2 separate regions of the Homo sapiens genome follow, and region 2 is linked to region 1. The links come from fine-mapping of genetic effects on gene expression. Tissue or cell type: neutrophils. Region 1 holds a variant in brackets; the other region holds the start of a gene. All regions are shown on one strand. Distances are between the middles of the regions.

The links. PIP is the estimated chance that this variant, and not a neighbour inherited with it, causes the effect.
Region 2: it holds the start of HEBP1, and the variant in region 1 is fine-mapped to the expression of HEBP1 in neutrophils (CEDAR, PIP 0.95).

The regions. Positions count from the first base shown.
Region 1 is chr12:12,970,992-12,973,676 of GRCh38, forward strand. All of the region lies in intron 1 of GPRC5D-AS1 (GPRC5D and HEBP1 antisense RNA 1), which reads left to right. It overlaps LOC124903100 (small nucleolar RNA SNORD88), which reads left to right and starts at 1,062; the gene lies at 1,062-1,152. The variant CA/C (reference allele first, on the strand shown) is at 1,013.
Region 2 is chr12:12,998,695-13,001,379 of GRCh38, forward strand. HEBP1 (heme binding protein 1) reads right to left here and starts at 1,571. Exons shown (of 4, transcript NM_015987.5): 1 at 1,343-1,571. The coding sequence starts at 1,420. All of the region lies in intron 2 of GPRC5D-AS1 (GPRC5D and HEBP1 antisense RNA 1), which reads left to right. It also overlaps the pseudogene HTR7P1. RefSeq lists silencers at 1,436-1,585, 1,636-1,755, 2,516-2,665.

The DNA.
Region 1 (2,685 bases):
GCACTAGCTCATATGCTTGGTTCAGAAGTGAGAATAGGCCGGGTGTGGTGGCTCATGCCTGTAATTCCAGCACTTTGGGAGGCTGAGGCGGGTGGATCACTTGAGGCCAGGAGTTCGAGACCAGCCTGGCCAACATGGTGAAACCCCCGTCTCTACTAAAAATACAAAAATTAGCTGGCCATGGTGGCACATACCTGTAATCCCAGCTACTTAGGAGGCAGAGGCAGGAGAATCACTTGAACCCAGGAGACAGAGGCTGCAGTGAGCTGAGATCACGCCACTGCACTCCAGCCTGGGTAACACAGTGAGATTCTCTCAAGAAAAGAAAAAAAAAAAAAAAAAAAAAAAAAAAAGAAGTGAGAATATAGAATTGAAGACTATGATCCTCTGCAATCTGGCCTCAACCCATCTCTCCAGCTGTTTCCCATCTTCCCAAACTCTTGACCTCAGGTATACGCATCTTTACATAGTCTCCTTGCAAAAGACACTGTTGATCAGCTACCTCAGAGCCATTCTAAATATTCTTCTTCCTTGCTGCTCCTCACTATAGAGGCTACAAAACCCAACACACACTCTCTCTTGCAGCTATGGATGGCCCTGTATGTTAGTTTTGGCCCATGAGATAAAAGTAGAACTCTGATGGGGAAACTTTTGGGAAAGCTTCTGTTTCTTCATAAAATGGGACAGATGCAACTGATACAGCCTGTCCTCATCTCCCTAATTTCCTGCCTTAAACATGGATGAGATGGCAGGAGCTGCATCAGCCATCTTGCAGCCCTGAGGGAGAGAGAAAGGCAAGTGCAGAGACATCAGCATTGAGTACTGAACCTGTCTCTGGATTTCTTGCTATGTGGGAAAAGAAAACCTTCTTGGCTTAAGCTACTGTTGGTTTTCTGTTACAGTTTCATGCATTCTTAAATGATAGATCCCTGAGCTAGGTGCTGGGCATACAATGGAGAACAAAGCAGGTATGGGGCTCCTCCTTATCAAACTTACAGTCTTGTGTGAGAGA[CA/C]AAAAAAAAAAAAAAAAAAAAAAAGAGGAAATGAATAAGTTAAAAAATTACATTCCATGATGTCCAGCACTGGGCTCTGATCACTCCGGAGGACACAGTTTTCCCCAAGACCATGGCTACCTGGGGATCTGAGAGAAAAAGGAAAATAATTATACAGTGGTTTGTATTATGAAAAAAGCAAAAATATAATGGTATGATGGAGAACTATAGGGGAGGCTGACTCTATTTTAGCTAGAGGGGCCATTGAAGGCCTCTTTGAAGAGGAGGTAGTTAGGATCTGTAGGATGAGAAAACCTGGCCATTTGAAAAGGAAGTGAAAAGGGTTTTAGGCAGACAAAACAGCTAGTGCAAGGGCTCTAGGGCAAAAAAGGGCTGTGTGTGTTCAAAGTCCACTGTGGCAGAAGGGTATTAAGGGAGAGATTGGAAAGAAAGAAGTAGTCAGAAGGGGCCAAATCACACAACGCCTTGCAGGTCATAAAATGGAGTTTGAATTTTAGTCTAAGTGCAAAATAAGAATTTTAAAGCAAAGATCCATTTGGAAGTTGTGTAGAAAATGTGTCCAAGGGGGCAGGAGCAGAAATGTGGAGACCAATTAGAAGGCTGTTGCAGGACTTCAGGCAAGAATGATGGTGATACATCCTAAGATGGTACCAGCAGAGATGGCTTCAAGATGATTTAGGACTTGGGTCAGTAGCACTTACTGATGTAGTGGTTTGATACACACTGATTACCTTCTTCCTTTTTTATTCTCTGGCATTTCTCCTATATAACTAGCCACTTTTAAACAATATTTGTCGGCTCTTTTCTTCTGCTTGTCTGTAAATATTAGGGTTCCTGAGTCCTTACCTAGATTTTCTTCTCTTCTTACTCCTGGCCTTTCCTTGGGAGAGTTCATAATTCACCTACTCCATCTAGATATTTGTGATGTCCAAACACATCTCCACGTTAGGCTTCTATTTGTAGCATCAGACCCACACTTTCAACTGTCCACTAGATAGCCTCACTTGGATGCTCTGCAGGCCTAAATAACCTTTGCGGACAGATTAACAGGGAAAAAATATTAATAGGAAAAAATATAGATTTTTATCTGATGTTAATATTTCTATGTGGCATGGAGGACTTCACAGAAAAAAGTGAAAACTCTAAAGCAGTTAGATTTGAGAATTATATACCATTTTAACAAAGAACAATACATTGTGGAGACATGACAAAGGAAAAAGGGGTTTGGGCTGGAAGGGGGATGGGAAAGTGACTAGGAAACATATCGGGGAAACTGATGGAAGAGAAGGGCAATTTTAATAAGGTTTGTACAGACTCATCTTGGCATTGACTCCCCATCCCTGGTGATAAGCATGTTCTCCTCTTCCTAGTAGAATGAGAGCACCTTTCTCAGGGGAAATTTACATACTGCTTTTAGGTAGAAAAGGGGAGGGCAGACAGCACTTCCTGTATCTGCCATTTCTCCATTGCCTTCAGCTCAAAATAACCAATTTGCCACAGTGGCATAGTTTGGAGCAATGCTCTGCTCCTCTTCAAACCTTTTCCTTATCTCATTCACCAGTCAGCCACCAAGTCCTGTTAACCTCTTCTCTTGCTCCAAACTGTCTACTTCTCTCCATCCCCACTGCCATGATCTAGTTTTGACCTCCATCATCTTTCTCTTAGTCTTGTG
Region 2 (2,685 bases), 28 kb after region 1:
TAGGTATCAGAACTTGGCCCCCAGGCAATACAGTCCTTTCACAAATGAGGCATCGTATTGGGAGCTCTGTATACAGCTGCACTGTTTAAACTACCTGTCCACCAGGAGATTATAATCTAGCAGCACTCTCCTTGTTTTCAGGGGTGCAGTCCAGTTAGCCCATGTTAGCACTGATATAAATTTGGGGGAAGACAGCAATTATGCTCTTCTCACTCATTCTGTATTCTAGGTACCCAACTCCAGAGGATCTAACTGGCCAAAAGCAATGGTACAGCTCTGGGCCTTTGTGCATGCTCTTCTCTGTTGTGTGCACTCCTACACATCCCTGAGGCCCCAGCTCAGGACACTCCACTGAGGTCCCCATCATAGCCCCCTGGCAGAATTGACTGCCTCTGTGCTCCCTGCGTAGCGCATTTATATCTATTCTGCACAGATCTTGTTCTTTTACACAGTAGTCCCCCTTATCTATAGTAGATACCTTCCAAGCCCCCCAGTGGATACCTGAAACGGTGGACAAAACTGAACCCTGTATCTACTACGTTTTTTCCTATACATACATACCTATGATATAGTTTAACTTTATCAATTAGGCACAGTAAGAGATGAACAACAATAATAAAATAACAGCAATTATAACAATATGCCAGCATTGCTAAGCTTGCACTTTGGGGCCATTACTAAGTAAAATAAGGGTTACTTCAATACCGCCACGGTCGATCCGATCACCAAGCTAGCTACTAAGTGACTAAGGGCGGCTACTAGAGATAGGAGGCTGACCTTGGACAAAGGGGCATTCCGGTCCCAGGAATCAAGATTTCATCCTGCTACGCAGAATGGCCGGAAACTTAAAACTTAGGACTTCTGTATTTCTGGAATTTTCCATTTAATAGTTATGGACAAGAGCTGACCACAGGTAACTGAAATCGCGGATAAAGGGGGCTACTATCCGCAGTTCTCTAGTACTTGGGAGTTTCTTGCGACACTCATTTCTGCAACCGAGTGTCTCTCAACAAATCAAACTGTTCGGAATGTTTGGAATATTTTAAACGAAAGAATGCATTCAACAGGCAGTGCCCAACTCCCCAAGTTGGGATTCTCTCCTTGGATCAGTCTCTCCTGTTTACCCCCCTCCTCTCACCACCGGCTGCAGGGGGACCTCTCACTCCTTTCCTTCCCAGTCCAAATGCTGGGCGGTGGAGAGCCGCACTCGCGACAGACACCAGAACGCACCTTCGATAGCACATTCCTGCCCCACCTGCCCCTCAGCACCCGCTGCAGCCCCGACGAGGGTGGGGGTGGGAGGCAGCAATCCTTCAGGTCCTCGGCAGCCCTGCGGGCCTACCTTGTCCCCTTTGCTTAGGACCTGCCAAGGCCACGTCTCTACGCTTCCGAACAGCGAGTTCTTGATCATGCCCAACATGTTGTAGCCGAGACGCTCCCGACGCACGGGAGGACGTGAGGTGGCGGGGGCGACGGAGCACCACGGGCAGCGACCACCGGCGGCAGGGCGGCAGGGCGGCAGGGCGGCAGGGCGGCAGGGTGGCAGGGCGGCAAGGCGGCGGGACGGCGAGGCGGCGAGGCGAGAGGCGGGGCTAGAGGCAGGGGCCAGAGGGCGTGGCTAGAGGGCGGGGCGGCAATTCAGCCCGGCGGTGAGGCAAGGGGGCGGGACGGCGAGGTGAAGGGGCGGAGAGAGAGGGCGGGGCGGCGAGGCGAGGGGGCGGAGAGAGGGCGGGTCAGTGATGCGAAGGGCGGGCAGCAGGGCAGCAGTGCAGCAGTGCAGCAGTGCGGTGAGGCGAGGGTGCGAGGCGGCTAAGCAAGGGATGGGCCCGCCGTGGCGAGCCGCTGGGCCGTGTTCCGCCTCCTTTCGGGCTTTCCGCGGGTGTCTGGGGAGGGAACCCGGCCGCGGGCCTCAGGCCGTCCCCCTCCGCAGACCCCTTCTCTTATTCTGAGTCTAACCTATCCGCTGGGGCCCTGGAAAGCGATTCTCGCCTGGAGTGGCTTTAGGCAGCGGTGGTGGGGAACGTCCTCTCTCAGGTGCCTGGGCTCCAACCTCCGAGCCCCGGGTTGCTCACGCTTCTCCGGTCCTCTACCCGAAGGCTCGATCCCGCTGGTACAGCGGCGGCCAGGCTCCCTGTCTTGGTAGCTGTCCCTCTACCCCCGCCCCATGACCTCTTCTAGACCATTGAAAGAGCATCCAAACCACTTTCCTGCTGCCACTCTTTCCTACCATCCCTCTAAATCACAGTTTCCAGGTGACTTTTCTAAGCATGGCTTTTCTCGTTCACTCCTGTTCAAAAATCTTCTCACCAATTTTGTCACCATTTACTCAGCTGAGTGCCTGCTTTCTGTCAAGTATTTTACCAATAAATCTCTACTCCACACCACCGACAAGAAATATTTTGGAGCCATTTAAAAAGGAGGAAACGGAAGCTTCTGCCGCTGCCTGATCCTCCATTGCTCCGAGCCGCGCGGGTGCAGCGGGCTGTGGAGCCGCGGGCCGAGCCCCGCCGGAGCGCCCGAGAGCCCGCGCGTCCCGGGCGTCCGTCGGGGTCCGAGGTCCCTCCCTCAGGGAGTCCCCGCTCGGCAGCGCTCTCGCGTTTCACGCAGCGGCCGGGGATCTGGGACAGGCGGGGCCCCGAGGCCGAGCCTGGCGCTGCCCAGCGGCCGGTGCAGGCCTCAAGCTGG